Regions from separate parts of the Homo sapiens genome. Here all the other regions are linked to region 2. The links come from fine-mapping of genetic effects on plasma protein levels. A gene starts in region 2. Each other region holds a variant in brackets. All regions are shown on one strand. Distances are from middle to middle. Region 1 overlaps SRPX (sushi repeat containing protein X-linked). Region 2 holds the start of SRPX (sushi repeat containing protein X-linked). Region 3 overlaps SRPX (sushi repeat containing protein X-linked).

Evidence for each region. PIP is the chance, under the fine-mapping model, that this variant and not a neighbour inherited with it causes the effect. The UK Biobank Pharma Proteomics Project read protein levels with antibody pairs (Olink). The fine-mapping took linkage between variants from a reference panel, not from the people measured, so its PIPs are less certain.
Region 1: its variant is fine-mapped to the plasma level of the SRPX protein (UK Biobank, PIP above 0.99).
Region 3: its variant is fine-mapped to the plasma level of the SRPX protein (UK Biobank, PIP above 0.99).

The regions. Positions count from the first base shown.
Region 1 is chrX:38,154,693-38,160,832 of GRCh38, forward strand. SRPX (sushi repeat containing protein X-linked) reads right to left here. Exons shown (of 10, transcript NM_006307.5): 7 at 5,325-5,504; 8 at 2,204-2,337. Among named protein-coding and RNA genes, the nearest start is that of SRPX, 63 kb to the right of the region's middle. The variant A/T (reference allele first, on the strand shown) is at 3,526.
Region 2 is chrX:38,216,981-38,225,270 of GRCh38, forward strand. It overlaps SRPX (sushi repeat containing protein X-linked), which reads right to left and starts at 3,891. Exons shown (of 10, transcript NM_006307.5): 1 at 3,716-3,891. The coding sequence starts at 3,812. It overlaps LOC124905176 (a long non-coding RNA gene), which reads left to right and starts at 3,928. Exons shown (of 2, transcript XR_007068212.1): 1 at 3,928-4,819; 2 at 6,442-6,712.
Region 3 is chrX:38,174,177-38,182,466 of GRCh38, forward strand. SRPX (sushi repeat containing protein X-linked) reads right to left here. Exons shown (of 10, transcript NM_006307.5): 2 at 4,109-4,168; 3 at 1-175. Among named protein-coding and RNA genes, the nearest start is that of SRPX, 43 kb to the right of the region's middle. The variant A/G (reference allele first, on the strand shown) is at 3,519.

The DNA.
Region 1 (6,140 bases), 63 kb before region 2:
TGCTCACTCTGAACTGTCCTGAAAACAGATGAGAAATTGGGGTTAAGATAGTGGCTATAAAACCTAAATACCTTTGCTAGAGGAATCATTCAGATATGGCTTGACAGTGGGATTTTGAAAACCTAAGCAAAAGGGCAGTCTATGTATTTCCAGACAGGGTGAGACCTTGAGTGAGTCAAATTTCCTAAAAAGTATCCAAGACCACCCCAGAGGATTCTAATTTTTCTTTGCAAGGAGAGAAGACTATTTCCAGAGTCCACTTCTCTGCCCTGTTTCCACTCTCCACACTCCCCTGCCCTATGCCCTCCACACCCAATCCCAGGGGAAAAGAGGATAAAAGGTTCCAAGCCTCTAAGCTGGCTCTTGGCAAGAACCTTGGGAATGTGGCCCAGTCAACCACGAGGAGGGCTCATCAGGAATGGCAATGGCAATAAAAAAAAAAAAAGTAATGTAAGACAAATATGATGAATTTGGCTAAATGGGAAAAGAAATTTTGAAGTCTTGAAAGACGAAAACATCAAATATGTTTTACCAAAATTCCACTGAAACGTCCCTATATGAGGTTACAGAACTGGTTGAAAAGTTTAAAAAGTTAGAAATAGACTTTTGTATTACTCTCACTGAAATGCCTAAGTCAATCAAACCTTTCTTTGAAGGCTCTGGTTAAAATGCAAATGTAAGTATATTTGGAGGAGGAGGGCACACCAAAACATCTTGATATAAAATATCTTATCCAACCAGTTGTTAAGTTAGCAAGTGTCTGAAGGGATGGGACAGACTAGAGCAACGATGGCAATCTTTCTCTGTAAAGGGCCAGAGAGTACTTCAGGCTTGGCAAGGTTGGATTGCCTCTGTCCTAACCACTTCACCCATCATTGTAGTGCAAAAGCAGTTGTAGATCATGCACAAATGAATTAGTGTGGCTGTGTCCAATAAAAGTTAATTTACCGAAACTAGCCATGGGTCACCATAGTTTGCTGACACAGAGGAAAAGCAAGTTGTTTGGCTTAATTCATTTTCCTATGGAATAAGAAGAGATGAGGAAATGCATGATCATGGAATATAGCCTGCAATGCCAGTTTCCCACAAAAGACAGAGGTATAAGCTTGTGTTTTCTGAAGAGCAAGCCCCTGGCTTGGACAAGGAGATACAAGGGGAGGTAAGCTGGTGGGGACCAGGGGTAAAGATGCAATGAATTTGGTTCCTATCAAGGGAACTCACAAAAATTTTATATGGCTCTTCAGAGTTCATAGGCAATTCTTCAAGTACGTGGGAAGAGTGAAAAGAGACTTATTATTATCCATTTTATTAATGCTGATATGAGAAGTAAATTGTAGCCTTTGATTAAATCAATACTGTTCTAAGCACTTAGTTCTATCCACTGTAATAAATGAATAAAATAGTCTCAAAAAAATGTGCAGCACTGTATCCATGGCACAGCATACATCCTGCCTCTTTAGTATTCAGTGAAGTTGGCCACTCTTTTGCAAACCAGCCTCAGGACAAAAGCAAGCAATTTCTAGTTTGATCCTTACAGTTTCTAGTCAGCCTTCCCCACACACCCAAGATGTTGGTTGCCTCATTTAGTAGCTACAAAATTTACATAGCTGAGAAGGACACATTTCCCAGAAAAGTGACCCTCAAACTTTAGAGTGCTTAGGAATCACCTGGAGATTTTGTTAAAAGTGTAGATTCTGACACAGTAGGTCTGGGAGGGGCCCTGAGAATTGGCATGTCTATCAAGCTCCCAGGTGATGCTGATGCTTCTGGTCCGGTCCATGGATCACACGTTGAGAACCACTTTTCTAAGAAAAAATGGCTGTCACCCTCTGAGTCAAAGAAATTCCCTGGGGAAAAATGTGGGCAGGCAACCAATTGATTGCTTCCAGCCAGGCATATCCTGGACAGGTTTGGCAAAGACAATTGTTCTGTGGCTAGGCCTGGACAGCATGTCAATTAGACTTATTGGTGAAGACAGACAAACCTCATTAGTTGGAAAACGATTGGGTTAACTCTAAGGAGTCAATGTTAATCAGGTTATGGCCCAGAACCAGAAATGAATGGTGGTAGCTCTAAAGTGCCACTTCCTGAAACTCACTGTAAGTGCATTAGGCACTGAATCTGGCCTTTGCTTTTAGTGAAATGGCTGGGCCCTTCCTGTTAAAGGTCTCCCTCTCACCTTGGCCCTGCCTCGAGGACTCACCTGCAGCATTCCTAGCTGGAGCCGGTAAAGGAGGTTTCGGGCTGTGGGTGTGGACACAATGAGGAGTCTCCTTTTCTCATAAAACTGATCCAGAAGTGCAGCTGCCGTTCTGACACCCACATTGACGTTCATGGCTGTAATCAGAAATGGCCACATGGGTCAGAAACCTTCCACTTGTTCTGGCTCAACAGAGCCTATGATGACACACAGAACCATTTGTGTAAGAAGTAAACCCTGAGATAAGGATTCAAGTGTAAACAGTTTATTTGGGAGGCAGTCCCAAGAAGCGCCTGTGGAGGAGTACGGAAGTATATTCACTTCCTCTTGCTGCTGTAACAAATCACCATAAACTTAGTGACTTAACATAATACAAACTTATTCTTTTAGATACTGCAGGTCAGGATCTAAAAGATCCTGGTCTCATGGAGCTAAAATCAAGGTGTTGGCAGGGCTATGCTCCCATGGAGGTTCTAGGGGAGAATCTGATTTCTTGTCTTTTTCAGCATCGAGAGGCCACATTCATTCCTTGGCTAGTAGTCCCTTCCTCCATCTTCAAAGACAGCAGTGTAGCATCTTCAAATCTCTCTTCTCTCTGACCTCTCCTTCCATCGTCTCTTTCTATGACTCTGACATCAGTTCTGCCTCCTTTATATAAGAAGGCTTGTGATTACATTGGGCCCACTGGGTAATTCAGGATACTCTTCCCATTTCAAAATCCTTAACTTATTACATCTGTAAAGTCCCTTTTTTCATGTAAGGTAACATATTCTCAGGTTCCAGGGACTAGGATGTGGACATCTTTGGTGGACCATTATTCTGTCTATGTCAGGAAGTGAGACAGTGAAGGAAAGAAAACAATACCAATTGGTTATCAAGCAAGTTTTTGCTGTGGGCATTTGGAACTCACTCCCACTGGGGAACTCTAGGAGATGATATACAACATACCTCCAGAATTAACCCACTGGAGGGAACTGGAGTATTTATACAATTGCTCCATCATTGCTGAGGGCTGCTTCTGGGGCACTAACTCTCCATCACTTCCAGCTGGCTCTGTGCATGGGCTGACAATGCTTTCATAGCCAGGAAAGAAATGCTCTCAGACAGACAGACCCAGTTAATTGCAGTAAGTAGCCTTTTGAACACAGATGGGAATGTGAAAGGCATATGGGCCAAGCACCATAGTATCTGCTGGGGAAAGGGGTGCAGAGAGGCAGAAGGGTAAGAGAATGGGCAGTGGCCAGGCTGGCTTTGGAATGGCTCAGAATCTCTGAAGTCTGCCTCCTTGGTGCAGAAGGGACAAAGCAATGTGGGGCACAAAGGCC[A/T]CAGAGCAAACAACACAGGCAAACAGGACATGGGACAAGGCGGTTTTATAATAGGTCTTCCCTTTAAGCAAATAAATGACAACTAATTCCAGCTGTTCAAGGTCAATGAAGGATGTCGTATAGATAGGCAAGCAAAAGGCTTAGCCCCAGAGAAGAAATAATAAGAGAAAAACTAGTAGATGCCATGTATGATTTATAATCTTGGTTTTCATATTTCACATTTTAGGTTTGCATTGAAGTATTTGTTCATTCACACATTCATTCATTCAGCCATTATATACTGAGTGCCTGCCATGTGCCAAGCTCTATGCTAGGTACTAGGATGTCACACTGAGTGATACACAGTTCCTGCCCTCTTTCCTGCCCTCTTCCCTGCCCCAGGGACTCAGAGTCTAGGATAGCTCTGGTCAAGAGAAATACAATGTAAGCCACTATATTTAATCTTAAATTTTCTAGTTGCCTCATTAAAAAAGTGTAAAGAGACCGGGCGCAGTGTCTCACATCTGTAATCCCAGCACTTTGGGAGGCCGAGGCGTGCAGATCACGAGGTCAGGAGATCAAGACCATCCTGGCTAACATGGTGAAACCCCGTCTTTACTAAAAATACAAAAAATTAGCCAGGCGTGGTGGCAGGCACCTGTAGTCCCAGCTGCTCGGGAGGCTGGGGCAGGAGAATCACTGGAACCCGGGAGGCAGAGGTTGCAGTGAACCGAGATCGCGCCACTGCACTCTAGCCTGGGTGACAGAGAGAGACTACATCTCAAACAAACAAACAAACAAACAAATAAAAAATATAAAGAGATAGGTAGAAATGATTTTATGTTTTATCTAACCCAATATATCCAAAATATTTCATTTCAACATGTAATCAATATAAAAAATTAAGATACTTTATATTCTTTTTCACACTAAGATTTTGAAATTGGTATATATTTTACACTTATAGCATATCTCAATTCAGAATAGCCTCATAGGTGGTGGGCATGAAGTCCTTAGGTAGGGAGTCTATAATAGGTGTGTTCTTTCTACTTTAATACATGAAATTGAAGAATCTCAGGCATTTAGCTGATGGTATATATGTCTCTCTGTCACTTAACTCTAAATGGGGGCTTCAATTAAAAGAAAGTGATAAAGATGAAAGGGTGCCAGGAAATGAGAAAAAGAGAAGTCTATAAACAAGAGATACATACATAATTTTCTGGCTAGTCCAAGTTTCAGACTCATTACCCAGCCCAATTTTTCTTCATCAGGAATAAGAGCTGGCATAAGGCTTTGCCTGTACCAGGCACTGCTCTATTCCACTGTTCCACAGATGACCTCATTTAATCCTTACAACTCAAGAGGTAGATGAGGTATTATTTTCTTCATTTTACATAGGAGGAAAGATTCCAAATGCCCAAAGTCTATGTAACTTTCATGCCAGTGATGCAAAGCAGGTATGATATTGTCTCTACATGGCAATTTACTAGCTTTATAAATAAGATCCTTACATTTCTAGAACAAAGGAAACTAGAGCAAATTTTGCTGATTCATAATGTCACCAAAGGCTGGCCCTAGGTTCCTACCTTGAGCTTCTTCCTTAGAGGACATGAAAAGGAAATTAGAGGATAGGCAGGGGCAAGATGGATGGCAGATGAGATGAGCTGCAGCAGGGATCTAGGGACTATGTTCATCCACTCAGATAAAGAGGGATGGCCATGAACTTCTCAAAGTATATGAAGGGAAACCTCTCTTGCACTGGAATCAAGAACCAAGGGGTTTACAGGTTCTGCTGCAGGCTGGAGGGGCGGCATACCTACCTGCACAGGTGGGCTCCGTGCCAGACCAAGCCAGGTTGGATTGACATACTCGGGCAGGGCTACCCTGGAGCTCATAGCCGCCGATGCAGGAGAACTCACAGGTGGCTCCATAATTATCACCGTCGCTGGAGCACTTCATGTAACCATTCTCTGGGGCATTGAGTTTGCCACAGCGTTTGACTGTAGGGACACAAGTCCAGAGGGGTCTCAGTGCTGAGCTCCCATCCACAGAGTAAGCAGAAAAGGTGAGGATGCAGAGGCATCAGCTTTGCAATCAGGCTTCTACATCAGCCTGTGAAATGAGTGAGGGAGGAGGGATGACTATTTGGTCAGTGAGTGAGTCTTGCAATGGTCACCATCCATACCAATGAGACCACTGATATCAACTGGTTTCGCCCCTAGTGTTATAGATGAGGAAGTGAAGTCCAGAAGAGTAAGGAGTAAAGATGGTTAGCAATTAGTTGCCCAAACCATCAGGCATAAAATAATCCTTAAAAACATTTTCTTTCATACCAATGGTACTAGAACACTAAAAACATGTTCTCCTGGTGGCCCAAATTAGGGGGCTCCTATTCACCCTGGTTGTAGATGGACTCACAGGCTTCAGCTGGCCACCTAAGCTCAGGGATGGAAAAATTATTGAATAATATTCTTCTAGGACAGTCAGCTATGGGATCCTGTAAGACTAGTCCTGGGAACTCCTTAAATAATCTGGCAACACTGACGCCCATCCGGATGTGTATCGTGAAATTCAGGCATTAAGATAGGGCACTTCCCCAAGCCTTATTAGAGACTAATCTAAAGCTGGCAAGTCTC
Region 2 (8,290 bases):
AAGCCATCGTTTCTATGTATGTAGATTCATGGTGGCACAAAGCCCTGTGTACCTGTGCACATGTTTCCCTCAGCTCCTTTCCTGTCCAATGGCCCATCACTGGAGTTACAGGCACTGTTAATCCATTACGCACAAATATCCATGTGGCACAAAGTGCTCTGCTAGGCACCGTGGGAAATACAAATAAGGGTAAGACATAGCACGGCCCCTGCCTCCAAGGTCTTAAAATCTACAAGAAGAAGAGTGCATAAATTATGATAATATACAGCATTATCAAATATGTGATATATGTGATAAATATAAGAGACATGAGTGAGACCATGGGTGTTAAAAGGAAGGCACGTTGCTTCCCATTGGAGCGATCAAGAAAAGGTCTCATCAAAGTGGGGGTGTTGCTGGATGATGGGCAGAATTTGGACAAATGGCAAGGGGGAAGGATTCCAGGTACAGAAAGCAGCATCTGCCAAGAAGGAAAATGTGACTCAGGTTCTATAAGGATAGGATTTTAGGAAACCAGGGGGAAAAGACTGGAAAATTAGGCTAGAAGCAAACTGTGTAGCCCCCTAAAAACAACTGAGAACTTTTTACTTGAGTGAGAACAGGGACCTGCTGCCCTAAGTTTTTGAGTAAGGGAGTGATGTGATAAAAAACAGTACTAAAGTCAATGGACTTAAAAGACCATTATCTAAAGTGAGAAAGTAAAATGAGCTAGAATTAGAGAGACCAAAAGTGAGAATGTTATAGCAATAATCTAAAAGAGAAAAGCAGCACTTTGGTTATGGTACGAGGACTGATGAGGTGGGAAGATGTGAAGACGCTGCTTTAACAATGGTTTCTGGTGTCTCATTCAGCTCCCAAATCTGCGAAATGAGTAGTAACTAACAAACAACATTGTACTGTACTGAAAGTGTTATCAATGAAGAAAATGCCAGAGGAAAATGACCTGCTCTCCCCAGCATATTTCCTTTTCATTGCAGAGTACTTTTGTCAGCTGATTACATGTTTTAAATCTAAATAGGAATTCCTAGCCTGTTCCCGGTGACACCTTAATTATATAACCTGAGCTAGGTGCTCCATTCCTAGTACTTATCTCCAAATGTGGTATTTCAAAAGACTGCTTCAGCTGATGTAGTCTGGTTTGGCTTTTAGCAAACCTCACTTGGTTTTCCTGACTAGTAAAACCACGCTACTTTACCAGTTTTCTCCAGATGTAAGATTCACGAAGCCTTTCTTAGAGGCCATGGTACTCATTCTCCATCTTCAGCCTTGTTTGCAGAAGGAGGCAGAGTGAACCACCACTATCTCACATGCAAATACAGCTCTAAGAATTATTTTAAGAACAGAATCTAAATTCTCATCTGTTATAAGCATACAAACACAGTCAAACACAAACAACTTTTCTACAAATTTTCCATACACTTCATGTAGGTTTTTATAGACACTGCATCTTTGCTAGGCTGCAAAAAATAGATCAGAGAGCCAGAAAAGCTGCATTAAATTCTAAGATGGAAGAACTCCAGAGACCTTCTAGGAGTGGGAATGAGAATGATTTACTCTCACTCTGACAGATGTGCTATTCACGTGCAGATAGTTACATAATCGACTTGCTGATGGAGCCCTAGATCTCCATCTTCTTTCAGAAGTTCCAGATTCAAGTCCTTCACTTTCTCTCTTACTGAAGATATGATGTCCACTTGCTAAGAGAGTGTCTCTGAAATGATCTTTAAAATTTGTCACCCAGCACTTAGAGTGAACTCAGCCTATGTGATTTGCTTTCAGACCCAAGGGCCTAGAGATTTTCCCCTCCCCAGCCTTCCAAAGCCTCTGGCTTGGACTGAAATCCCCTCCTCTGGATCTCACAACCTCAGCGGAGCACACTTCCCAAGAGACCCCATTGAGCCATGCCAAAAGGAGGCTCAAGAGGAGTGTTTATCAAGCAGCTCCAATCAGCTTCAGCTCATTTGTGGTCTGAGCAGAGCCGGAGGGCAGGTTAGGAGTCAGTGGAGGTGGTGGCAAGCAGGAACATGGTGGCTAAAAGTTGGGAGCAGCTTGCAGGCTGGCAGAGGGAGCCAGGAAAGCCAGGGATAGGTCCCAAAAGACAGGTGGTAGTGAATGCCCAAACTGGCGAACTCATGATTCTGTGGCTGGGCCCTGGTAGCAAGCTGTACTATATAAAGGTGGAAGATGAGAGAAAGGAGAGGGGAGGGCAGGGGAGGAGAACGGAGGGAGGTCGGATGGAAAAGGAGAAGGGGTCCCCAGCTTGAGAAAGGCTCAACTAAAAGTTGAGGTTCCCAGGCAGCTCACAGGCACCTCCCAACTCAGTGCGGAAAAGCTACCTCTAGCTTCTCACCTTATTTGCCCGCTCCCAGAAAGCTGCTTCTGGGACGCTTAATGACTTCCTCTTCCCCTACAGGTTCATTTTAACCTGATTCCTGCTAAAGGGGGTGGGAGAGGAGGTATTAACACACCATGGGAATAACAGTTGCCTGGCAGTAAGGATAAAATTTCCTTTCCACTTTACCCTGAATCAGTTCCTACAAAGCAGCTTAAAACTTAAGAGTCAGCTCAAAACACAAATGTTCCTGTTTATTAATTTACAAATTTGTTCTATTCATTCATTTATTTAGGTGCGTGCAGAGAATTTCCCGCAGCCATCCCTACATCTCCCAAGCACACTGCTAGAAAGATGGGCATCCTCTATCCTTCTACCAGAACTCAGTAGGTTCATTTCTCATACCCTAGATTTAAGCTGCCCACGGTGTTGAACGCAGAGCCAAATATTTGCACGCCCTATAGCCGACGTCACCCACTTTCCCATTAACACTAAATTAAAACGCATCCATGGATTTCCTCTCCATTCCGAGGCAACAGGAGTGCATGGCACATTGCCCTACTCCCCTGAAGCTCTTCGCTAACCTAAGACTCCAGGGTGAGGAAGTTAGCTGGAGCTTTTTAAAGTGCATCTCCAAAGAGAATTTTGCTCACACCATGAGAGCCCCCAAGAAACACCAGGGCCCCCTTAGATGCCGGAGACCACGCCCTCCAGGAATAAGCCGCACCCTCTGCCCAGCAGATCCTTGCGCGAGTAGCCCTCTTTCCCTGGGGCTAATCAAGTGCATGCCACATGTCACCACTCTCAGCTGGCAATTCTTCCTCAGAGGCGCAGACTTTCTCGGAATCCCCAGCAGGGGGGGTTAAGAGATTCAGGGGAGGCCCCGCCCGTGCCTTCCACAAAAGTCGCTTTACCGTGGCTCGTGTCCTGCGGCCCCAAGGGGGTAGCCTGGGACGTGTAGTGGGAGGGCATAGAGGCTCCTTCCAGGACAAGCTGCCAGCCTCCAGTGGGCAACCATGTGAGAGGCAAAATTCTGGGGGTGAGAAAGTAGCAAACTAGTCTGCGGCCAAACTTTCTCTGTGGAGCCTCCTACACCGAAAAGGGTTTGATTGGAACTCTGGAAGCCCGGACGCAGAAGGTGCTAGGGCTCCCGTCGCCGCGAGGGCGCCCCGCGCCTGGAGATGGGATGGTCAGTTCTTCCCGGCGCGTGCCCAGACACCAGCCCCGATCCGCATCATCCCCACCCTCGGGCTGCGAAAGAGGAGTTCTGCGCAAACAAAGGGCGCCCCCGGCACCTCCCTCTATCCCGAGCGAAGGGTCCCAACGGCGACTCCGGGGGTCTTTGGTGCCCAGCTGAGGAGGCAGCCACGCCTCCGATCCTACCTGGGAAGCTGCGGCTGGGCGGGACGCGCAGCAGCAGCAGCAGCAGCAGAGGCGGCAGCAGCAGCAGCAGCGCGGGCCGATGTGCGGGGCTCCCCATGGCGAGCGGGCGCTTAGCTCGCCTCGGCAGCGCAGCGCGCTTCCCGGGGGCGGCAGGAGACCGAAGAGACCAAGGGACTGCGTGCTAGCGGGCGGGCGAAGGCCGGGCTGGAAAACTCCTCCTCTCGCCTCTTTCCCTCCCTCCTTCCTGCCTGGGGCCTGCCCTCCTTTCTCCGCCCCCCCTGGAACACTGCGCGGTTCGGGGCTCTGACCCACCCACCTCCTCCTTTTGTGCCAGCGCTTTTTCTGGCCAGAGAGCGCTGGAGACAAGCCCCAGCAGAGCGAAATATCCTGAAGTAGCTTTCTTTGCCCCAATTTGCGCGCCCCCTCACCCGGAATACACACACGGTATTCAATACAACCGCCTCGAACATCCCAGACGTCTAGAAGGATACCATCTGTGCAGAAAGCTGCGTGAGTCACACGGAAACAGAAGGGGCAACCGAGGGGATTCAGAGTGGCCCACTGCGGCCGGATACTATGGCCATGTTCTCTGTTTTGATCCTCACGACCATGCCCCAAGTTCGCTATTACCATGTCCACTTTCTCCAATAAGACACCGACGCTTAGAAACTTGCCCAGATTCACCCCCGTTACTGGCAGAGCAGGGACTGGAACTTAGGTGTGTAGTTCTGCCGACGTCAAAGTCCATACTACAGATTTTTTGTTAGTTTGTTTCTCTTTTGCAAAGGAATAAATCAAGGACTGGACCGGGTGCGTGCCTGCTCTGCTGCGGTTTAGGATGGGGCTTGAGGTTCTCCTTCCAGGATCAGCTGATGGGAGAGCACAAGGCACAGAAAGTTCTCTGTCTCACCCACAGCCATGGGGATCCAGCTGTAGGTTCCTGCAGCCAGATTTCCTCATTTCCTGGGTTGTTCTCAACCACCCCAAAGATACCACGACCAGACTGGAGCCTCTTCCCTGTGGCTTGGCATCGCTGGATCCTGGCATCAGGACAGGGTTTCTAGGCTGCCCGCAGGACGGATCTGGTTTCTTTGAGGCATTTGAGTAAGCCTCTCATAGTTTTGTTTGTTTGTTTGTTGTTTTGGTTGTTTAGTTCTTGTTAAATCAGTAAGGCAATACGTTGCCCCTTTGCTGTCTCAGAAAGATCTTAGCTAAGGCAAATTTTAGTTGGAGTTGCTGCATTAGGTTGTGCAGTTTGGGCACTGTACAAAGGCATCCAGAGGAAGGGGCAAGTGGGAGCCAAAATCCAAATGCCTTTGGGTTCAGGGAGCTTTGCGTCTTGGCAGGGGCCACATCCACTAGAAGGGCATCTTTCTCTCTGCCACAGTAGTCTGGTCTGATAGCTAGGCTAAGAGCCCTGGGGGCACTCACCTAGAAGTTCTGAATTTGTTTATCCAGAAGGAGTGCCATTTCCCAATTCTCACAAAAGCCCCAGACTTGAACGTCCATCTTACCCTCTCTAGCACTTGGGGGGACTTCGCTCCATCTCCTGTGGGTTTCTCCACTGCTGCTACCTCTTCAGGGAACCAACAACCCTTAAATAACCCCCTAGTCGCAAGGAAATGGGGGAGGTCAGTCTATTCTGTGGCCTCCATCAGACCAGACTTTCCAGGGAGTCATTCTCAACCTTGTTTATGTGGGTCACCTGGGGAGCTTCATGAAAATACCATATCCAGGCTCTACCTCACACTAATAAAATCAGAATCTTTAGGAATGTGACCTGGAGTTTGACCAGATGCATATTTTTGTCTCTCCCCAATCCGCTAAGCTCCACGGTATAAGTTTTAGTATAGGATAAAAATTCTAGACCAGGAGTTTCTCAACTTGGGCACTATTGATATTTGGGGCTAGATGATTCTTTCTTGGGGAGGGGGACTGCCTTGCACGTTGAGAGATGCATCGATGGCCTCTATGCAACAGATACCACTAGCAATCCCCCTTTCCCCAGTTATGGCAGCCAAAAAAATGTCTCCAGACATTGCCAAATGTCCCCCAGGGGAAAAATGCCCCCAATAGAGAACTACTTCTTTAGGTCTGTAAACAAGGGTTAATGTGCACCCCAAATTCCAGGTCCAGGATAGCCTGGCCAGCAGCCTTCCTTTCCTATGTCACCTCTGAAGCAATGTGTCTTCACCACAACCAGTATACATTCTATTACTGGGCTGAGAAGGAACTTCTAGCTCACTTCTATCCACTGATTCTGGCTGGATTACAAGAAACACCACACTTACTGTTGACTTGCTCTCTGGCCTTTGAATGTCCTCACCACAAAGAAAGAAATCAGAAATGGATGAGGTGATGGTCACGCAAAATACTGACTTGACGCTTGGTGCAGTGGCTCATGATTGTAATCCCAGCACTTTGGGAGGCCAAGGTAGGCGGATCACTTGAGGTCAAGAGTTTGAGACCAGCCTGGCCAATATAGTGAAACCCCATCTCTACTAAAAATACAAAAATTAGCCGGGAGTGGTGGCACACACCTGTAGTCCCAGCTACTCGGGAGGCCAAGGCAGGAGAATCACTTGAACCTGGGAGGCAGAGGTTGTGCCACTGCACTCCAGACTGGGCAACAGAGCTAGACTCCATCTCAAAAAAAAAAATACTGACTTGATTTTTTCTTTTTCTTTTTCTTTTCTTTCTTTCTTTTTTTTTTTTTTCTTTGACAGGGTCTTATTCTGAATTTGAATTTGTTTATCCAGAAGGAGTGCTGTTTCCTGGCTGGAGTGCAGTGGCATGATCATAGCTCATTGCAGCCTCAAACACCTGTGCTCAAGCAATTCTCCTGCCTCAGCTTCCTGAGTAGCTAGGACTACAAGCATGTGCCACCATGGCCAGCTAAGTGTTTTTTGTAGATATGGGGGTCCCATAAATATGTACATTTACAATGTGTCCATTAAAAAAATAAACAAAAATAAAAGACTTGAAGAAACATCTCTATATAATGTTTACAGAGAAAAATAACATTTGTTGTTTTCATTGTGCAAGGATATCTTGAAGGACAGATCCAAGTTCAGTTGCCTCTTGTATCAATAAATCGAAATAACCCTTTCATTTTTACCTAACAAAGATAAAGGGGAGAGAACAAGGTGGTATTCTTACCTAGTGGGAATACTAAAAGGAATGCCATTGTTGTCAAAATGTATAAGGTATATAAATCACGTGGGTTAGAGTAATAGGGAACACAATTAGATATAATATTGGGAAACCATTATTTTTCCTTGACAAGCTTGAAGTATTCGATATAAACCCTTGGAAGAACTAATATGAACATGAAAAAATAAAATAAGAGCCTGGAATGAGGAAAAAAAGTCTCTTGCTCTCTTTTCTACCCTATAGAGAAAATTCCAATGGGACTTTTATTTTTCTTATTATTTTTATTCCAGTTTTCTCTCTGATAGAAGAGATGAGGGTAGAGGTAAGGTAGAGGAAGAGGTTGTCAATTCATCCCAATCCCACAATATCTTGGAAGACAATCAGATAGTTAAATAGATTCATAATCTGTCAAATAACTTAAGGGTTAATGAGTTGATGAAAACAAAGAGAAGTCACTCAGGGAGTGCCACAGAGCTATGACACCATTCCTATCCTGCTTGATGTTACTATTTATGAACTAGAAAAAGATATTTTTGGCAAAGGACATGAAGATAGGAGGGCAAGAAACAGATTCCAAACATCTCTCTAGGCAGGCATGCTGTATTGAAACATTAAAAGACAGCAAGGATAAATATGATGTCCTATGTTAGATCTCAAAAACCAATCACACATGAAGAATCTAAGAATCACTAGAAAGCCAAGTAGTCTCCCCACTGCATCAGGCTCATCTGTGCAAAGAAGTGTTTATAAGGTTTTATTCAGCATTGCTCATAGTAACAAAAGGTTGGTGACATTTTTGTAAATGTAAATATCCATTAATGGGGAATTATTTTATTAATTATGCATACCTATGTAACGAAATACTATGTGGCCATTAAAAAGAATGAACAAGATGCATATGCATCAGTAGGAAAGGTAGTCTCACATATTTTGTTTAATGAAATAACAAGCAAAATAATACACATATCTTGCTACCATTTGTGGTATGGGGAAGGCATGATACTGTATCAGGGTATGGGGAAGTCAGTAGGAGAAATAATTTTTTATTACTGTACAATCCTTTGTACTGTTTAAATATGTAAGCATGTAATGATATTTCTTATTTAAATTAAACAGATCATTGAAAATGTTTTCTTAAAAAAAAAAATCACACCGATACAGAGTAGGAGTTGCCAGTAGTGGCTTCACAGTACAACCTACGACAGTGCAATCTATTTGCCTATAAGCTAAGTCTCCAAGGCACCTCAGGTGCATGCAGACAGTGTCTGTCTTGTCATCTGAAGCATTCCTGAGTACTGGGCAAAGTACCAGAGGTGAGAAGAAGAGAACACAGACATCAAAGTCTGGCAGGAGGAGGGAGGTATCTTTCCACTCTGTGCAGTGTTGAGGAGGTTGTAGTCAACAAAACAGTCTTGTCCCCTG
Region 3 (8,290 bases), 43 kb before region 2:
TCAGACCATCGTTTGTTTGACTGGCAGATCAGTAGGGAAGAGCCATGCAGCTCGTAGCCCTTCTGGCAGCGAATGTCGCACCTGGTTCCCAGGGCTGTTTTGTAGTATCCTCCTTGAGGGGCCCTGCAGTACACATCCCCATACTTCACCTTGATGGGGGAGCACCACGGGGTATCTACAAGTAGCAGAAACAAAAGAGGAGATAAATATGAAATGACACTTTCAGAAAATGTGTCCCCTTACTCTTACTGTCCCAGGCTGGCTACATTCCAAATTTTGGACCTTCAATTAGTGCCCCATGTTTTCTTAGGTGTCTCCGGGTAGGGAGGTTATGATCATGGGACTAAGTGTCAGATATATCTGAACATGAATCTGAGTTCCTCTATAACTGACTGTGTGATCTTAGACAAGTTAGCTAACCTCTCTGAGTCAATATCTATACTTATGCCATAGTGCTGTTACAAGGACGAAATAAAAATTGCATATCAAGCATCTAGCACAGTACCTAGCATATATGTTCAATAAATGCTTGTTCTTTTTAGTATTTCCCTTAACTAGATACATAAGATTTTTTATTTTTATTTTTTAGATAATTCTTTCAAGGGCAACTGATGTCATACATAGCGGTAGGGATTCAATAATTGGTTAATTTGGATTTCGTCTGAGCCGTATGCACATTCTCTCTAAAATGTTGTAATACTGGCATTAATCTAAATGATGCTACAATTTCCAGGTGTTTGTAACAAGATATAAATTTCGCTTAAAGTCACAGAACAATTGCTCTCCATAGAGAAGTGTCCCCAGTTATGCCCCATTTACGTAACAGGGTGACACCCTCCCCAGATGGCAAAGTTGCAGGTGTTTTGATTTTGGTCTCATAGTTGCCCAAAGCACAGCTGGGATGAAATGAATAAATCAGAACCTCCCTGCTGTGCTTTTGAAATGTTCTCTTTGAGATCCATAAAATATAAGGGCAACACTAGCTCCTTGGTGGATAAGTTCCTACAGCAGCCACTGCCCCATTGTCCCACAATTGATGGGGAACAGTGAGGAGTTCCCTAAAGCCTGCCGGGCTCTCAATGCCATGAATAGGAGCCACTTCCCTGCAACTGCCTGGCTCATCACTCCAACCCAGCACCTGAGCTGTCAGTGAGTGAGGTAAGACCGCCATCATGTGGCCAGGAAGGAGGACAGACCCTGTTTTACTTTCCCAGGAATTCTCTTCTGAGGATATGCCTCCAACTGCTTCTCAGTTACAAAAACCAACAGTTCTGGCCACGTCTTATGCATAGACCACTGTTTTAGTTTTGCCTTCACATTTCCTTCAGCTAATACTTTCTCTTTTTTTTTTCTTTTTTAGAAACAGGGTCTCACTCTGTCACCCAGGCTGGAGTGTAGTGGCATGATCATTGCTCACTGCAGTCTCGGCCTCCTAGGCTCAAGTGATCCTCCTGTCTCAGCTTCCCAAGTAGCTGGAACTACAGGCACGCACCACCGTCCCTGGTCTGGCTAATACTTTCGTCATATCATGTTTTGCAGACAGCTGCAAGTGAGCCCTAAACTCAAGACTCAAGTAATCTTCCCTGGACTTTCTAGGTAAAGGTGATGTCCTAAAGGCTTAACCTAGAGCTGATTAAATTTAACCATGTGGATATAAACGTGTAGGAGCTCACACAAGGCCTAAAGAACTTCCTTGAATAAATTTTCCTTCCTCTAAGGGTTTTAATATAATCTGTATGTACTACATATATTTGTGATATACAGTACTCCCCCTTTGCCCACGGGGGATATTGGATGCCTGAAGCCTTGGATAGTACCTAACGCTATATATACTGTTTGTTTCTTACACAAACATACCTATGATGAAGTTTAATTTATAAATTAGGCATGATAAAAGATTAACAACAACTAATAATAATATAGAACAATTATAACAATATACTGTAATGAAAGTTAGGTGAATGTACTGTCTCTCTCTCAAAATATCTAATATTTTGGGGCTGCGGTTGACTGAAGGTAAATGGAACCTTGGAAAGTGAAACCGCAGATAAGGGGGAACTAATGTATGTATATATATGACCTGCATACTCATACATCACAAACTCACTCAATTAATATGAATATATGATGGTATTCCAAGCAAAAGAATCAAAAGCCATGCTTGCCACATACCAGGAGCACCGTAAATGTTGGTTACATTTAATTTTCTTTCTTATTTTACTTTAATTCAAAAACACTTACTCTGTGCTGGACATTGTGCAGGGGCCTCAGGATCTAAAACTAAACCCTCACTTAATAATGGCTTGTCTCTAGCTTTTAAAATTAAAAAAACTTGGCCAGGTGCAGTGGCTCACGCCTGTAATCCCAGCACTTTGGGAGGCCAAGGTGGGTGGATCACCTGAGGTTAGGAGTTCGAGACCAGCCTGGCCAACATAGTGAAACCCCTGTCTGTACTAAAAATGCAACATTAGCTGGGTGTGGTGGCGTGTGCCTGTAGTCCCAGCTACCTGGGAGGCTAAGATAGGAGAATCGCTTGAACCTGGGAGGCGGATGTTACAGTGAGCCAAGATCACGCCACTGCACTACAGCCTGGGTGACAGGGTGAGACTCCATCTCAAAAAATAATAATAAAAATAAATAAAACTTAAATTTTATTGTATGAAGCGCACAACATGATGCTTTGATATACTTATACATACTGAAATGATTGCTACCAGTAAGCAATTTAACTGACAATAGAAACAATGCCCTAAGAAAATTTATTCTTAAACATTCAGGGTAAGTTCTAGGGCAAGCACACATTTTGGCCATCTGGTCTACCTGTCACATTTGCAATGCTGTGAGGTGAAGATGGATGTGAAGAACAAGGACCTGAGGGCACTAGGCAACCCCTGCTGTAGATGTGAAGGGTCATCTGTGCATGCATGTGTTTTAGGAAGATTTTTCAACAAGGGACTCAAAGAAAAAAAAATCTAAACCCATAAATAGTTAAGAAGTTTTGCGAATTAGAACCTTTCCTTACCCCAAGCATCTGATTAACGTATTTGTGCTTTGCTTGATTGGTTAATTCCTGAGGCTATGGAGATAGAAACTATAGGTAGGAATGAGTATTTGCATTCAGATCTCACAAAAAAATGTGGTATGTGATGGGAAGCACACCTGCACATAAGCACCAGGCACCAGTCATTATATTGGAAATATTGTTCACTTGTGTAGAAAACAACTGAAGGACATCTCCAGTCAAAAGTTGTCCAGTCCTACCCTGATTCTCCTGTATCTGAGACACATCACAACAAACAAGGGCCATGTCCTCATCCCAGGAATTAGGACAAATTTCCAGGGCAAAATGCCGCAGTGAAACTTTGTTAACCATTTTTTTTTTTTTTTCAAATTCTTCCTCCACTGTAAGAGGAACTAGATTCAGAGAGAAAGCATCTCTAAATTTACCTTCATTTCTCCCAGGTTTCCCTAAGCTTCAGAGAAATGTTTCACCAGTAGAAATATTTGTGGACATACTT[A/G]CCTGAGTCTGGACAGAAGGTTCTTGTTTAGGCTTTTTATACGTGCTGGGGAGTGGATTGCTGGGAATATGTAGAGATGGAGTTCTTTATCATTAAGTTTCATTTGAGCAACATACTTTAACATACCGTTTCAGAAGCCATGCTGGGCTCAGAAAGAGCACGATGAAATGAGCTTATGAAAATCAAGTTTTCTCCTTCCCCATTCATCTTAGTACATTATCAGCACTTGGTCCAGATTTGACCTTAGGTGGTTTACTCTGGATGATTCTGGCTGTAATGTATGAATTAGGCTTGATTTTCACTTTCATCAGCTACAGCTGCCTTTGCAGAAGTGAGGACAGTAAAGAAACTTATGAGAATAAAATGACCATTGGGATGCTGAAAGACAGCATTTCAGAGATTTCCAATGCATTTTGCTTTATTTCCTTTTTTAAAAAAGGGAGTATATATATATATTTTTTTTTCCTTGATAGATAATTAGAACTTAAATGTGTTGTCTGGTCACTTTATTACAATCTGTTTCACAAGGCAAAAAGGAAAGTTCTCCTGGCACCAGCAGGTCCTCATTAGCACATAAGCAAAGCATTCACCTTTATATCTAGGGTGTGAATACCCGACTTCATCGTCTTCTAGTGGTGAGTCTCCCGATCCTACAATAAAAAAGAACAGAAACTGCAGCAAGAAAAGCCACATAGTATGGACGCATATTTCAAAGCATTCCTTTGCCACAGACCATGCAGGAGGTGCTATTAGAATGCAGAGCCAAGAGCAAAAGCTTCTGTGGCCATTCATGAAGGAACAAACAGGAGATCTCTCAGAGTGAAACCGGCTGAGCTGAGATTGCCAAAAACCAAGCAAAATGAGCCTCAAACTGTTTTGGAATCACCATATGCCAAGTGAAATTCTGGAATAGGGAAACAGAGAGAGTCAACTTCACTCTGAGAAGATGCCAATGTATATGAATCTCATGCCAGGGGAGATGCAATAAAATGTGTGCATCAGACACAGTCCACAGTTTCCCCAGCAGTCAAAGAAAACCCAGTAGAACTGGGTGTTTATGGTACCTGAAAACAGGTCCATCTTGTGAAATAAATTTAAATGCAAGATAAGGAGGTAAATCAAATGTCTTATCTTGACAAAAGAAACACAAAGTTGCTTCTATATACAGCATTTGTAGGAAATGAAGGCTGAAATAGACTATCTGTGTGCTTATTTAGAACCTCTCATGAACGTATGGCTCAAGTAAAATTTCTTTTTTTTTTTTTTTTTTTGAGACGGAGTCTCACTCTGTTGCTAGGCTGGAGTGCAATGGTGTGATTTTGGCTCACCGCAACCTCCGCCTCTTGGGTTCAAGGGATTCTCCTGCCTCGGCCTCCTGAATAGCTGGAATTACAGGCATGTGCCACCATGCCTGGCTAATTTTGTATTTTTAGTAGAGACGGGATTTCTCCATGTTGGTCAGGCTGGTCGCGAACTCCCGACCTCAGATGATCTGCCCGCCTCGGCCTCACAAAGTGCTGGGATTACAGGCGTGAGCCACCGTGCCCAGCCAGTAAAATTTCTTAATGAGCGTTGCTACCAATAAAAACCACGGCCTCAGAGAGAACGTCTGTGTATTATTTTAATTTAACTCATTTGCAAGCTGGAGCTGAATGGTTTTTAAAATATTAAATATTGAATTCCAGTGAGCAGTAAATCCTTAATCCTTGAAGTGGTAGCAGATGCCAAACTTCAAAACTGTAATCTTAAATTCAGAGAACTTCCCTCCAGACTTCACAGTCTAATTAATGACTCGAGTTAGCTCTGTCTTGGTCACGCATTTAGTTGTAGTTACTTGCCACCATAACAGACAAGAACATCCTCCACTGTGAGGTTATTCAAATCCCCATGCAGCTAATGAGTAATGGTCCCTGTTCCACTTGTGTTCTGGATGAGAGATGTAGAGTGTGGAAACTGAAAGTGGAGAGGAGATGAGGGCTGGACTGTGTTCATTAGGAAAAGACCCGCAACTACAGAAGCCCAATTCTGTATTTTCCTTTGCTGCAGATTTCCTCACCTTGTCTCTGCACACCCAGATGTGTACAAAATTACAAACTATTCATCATTGCATATAAAAAAATGAGCACTGGAACCAGACACAGTGGCTCATGCCTGTAATCTCAGAAACTAGGGAGGCTGAGTGGGAGAATTACTTGAGCCCAGGAGTTCAAAAAACAGCCTGGATAACATAGTGAGAACCCATCTCAAAAACAAAACAAAACAAAAAACAATGAAAACCAGGAAACCTACCTAACAACATGAATCAAAGGCCTATGCTCAAACCCTTTGATCAAGTCATTCCACTTCTAGGAATCTACCCAAGGAAACAGTTGAACTGCATGTCTGCATGTGAACCTTCAATCATCCAAATTAAAAAAAAATCCAGATACATGAGCAGCAAGCTTTCTCCCCCCGCCCAGCCCTCCAACACACATATACACACATACATATATTTTGCCCTCGGTTGTCATCCTGGTTAACTTGTCTACAGTATTTACAGCATTTAGTATGAATGACTACCCATTCATTTCATGAAGCTCTCTTCTGCAGTGGCTTCCAAATGACAACAGTTTCCCGATTTTCTTCCTCCTTTCTAAACAGACTCTCTGGACAGCACATCTAGATCAGCCTGCCATTTGGACATAAGTATTTCCCAGGAGTCCAGTATTGGTCCTTTACATATCTCCAGACTATTTTCCTGGGCCATCTCACTCCCATACTTGCCTCAAACCATTCCCCATGTACTGATGATAAATCCATTGTTTCTAGCCTTGAACTGTCTCCTAAGAGCCAAGCTAGAATCTTCAACTGTTGTCTGGATATCTCCACACTCACACTCAACCTGCTCAAAACCAGATTCCTTTTCTTATCACCAAATTTGTGCATCCCCCAGTGTTTCCCATTTCAGCAAATAACCATCTTCCAGCTACTCTGCCACATGGAAAATCTCAGCCTTTTTTTCTTCTATCTTCTTCATCTACCACATTCTAAGATAGGAATTAACTTAAATATCCAACTACAAGAAATGGTCAATCATATTATGATCCATTCATAACATAATAATGTTCATTTTGAAGAGGTTTCTTAACATGGGAAAATATTATAGAATGCTGAATGAATAAAGAAAGAAGCATAACCCCCAAAATGCAAAAATGCATTAAGATTTTAAAATATGGCAAAGCTCATGTGTGAGAACAACAATATGGATGAATAAAACTAAAATAATATTGTGAGCAAAGTTGGTCCCAGAAGACTATATACTATATATACGACTCCTTTTTTATAAAGTTCAAAAACTTCTAACACTAAATTGTTGGGAAATACAAAGATATGTACGGTAATTTTTAACAAAGCAAGGAGACCTCTTACCCTTTCCTAATCTTCTCTTCTTGAACAACTGAGTTCTAAGGCCTTTAGAGCAAGGCAGACATCTGTACCAGAAAGGACAGGGAGGCATGGTAGGCCAGAGCAGGATGTCAGAGCCCAAACAGGGCATAGAGGGAAAACAGGGGCAAAGAGAGAATGCACATGGGCAGATAGCCCAGCAGGGGAATCACAGATTAGTAAGATAAGGAGGGCTTTCACATGGGTAAGGCGGAAGAAAGCCTGGCATTGGGTTGAAAAGTACAGTTTCTAGATTCCCTTATCCCTAGGTTGTGAAAGGGTCTACTTTTAGTGATTTGGAAGGAATCAAAGGGAAGGAACTCTTTTCTACAGTTGTGCATGCAGAAAATAGGCTACAGCAGATGTGAGTGTTGTCAACTGTGTCCACTGTCCCCTCATCAGCTTTGTGTGGTAGGGAGGATAGTGACGTTGGCAGTGGTGATAATCACGGCAGCAACAGTTTCCTAGCCTGAGTGATAGGAGGAGTTTCTGGCATCTGGACTGAAGTCATGGTGCCATTTGACCTTTAATGCAGACTTCTTGACTTCCATTGCTCCAGCCCTTCCAATTTTGTGAGTACCTTATTTCCTGCATTAAATCATTTTTTGCATAAAATACCTAGAGAGGATTCTGTTTCCTATATTAAACCTAACAGATATTTAAGCAAACCAATTAAGAAATGAATATATGGTTTTATAGCTTTCTCTTAGTAACTGGACACTACCCTAACACAGGGCACACTGCTTTCTACCCACAAGTCTTTTGTAGATAAGAGAGGGGACTTTTATGTGAACATAGATGAGTAAGGAGGAAAAAAGAAAAAAAAAACCTACTGGAGTCAAACTTACTCTTTTTCCGAATTGGTCTATCTGCTAAGCTAAATGCAATCTGATTTCTGTGCAATTGAATTCACATGGGAAAGGAAATAACACACACTAAGTGCCTATGATATGTGTACTATGCTAGGCAATTTCTATGCACTATCTCATTAAATCTATACAATAACACTGGCCATTTGGTACTATTTTAGATTTATCATTAGGGAAACCAAGTCTCTAACGTCTTTACTTGTCCAAGGTTATGCAGCCAGTAAATGGTAAATCAGGGATTCGAATCCTGTCTGCCTGGCCTTCAAATCTATCATTCTTTTTTCACTAGGCCTTACTGCCTTCTGCGCCTACAATTTCAAAGAAATGAGATAGCTGGCTTTGGGATCACTGATAGGCAAACAGCAAATGGCTTCTTCAGTAGTGTGAGAACAAATATGCCAAGAGTGGGTCCCACAGAAGCAAAATGAAGAATCCATGTGTAGCAGAAGCTGCTGGTTGCCTGTCCAGCAGCCATTCTCC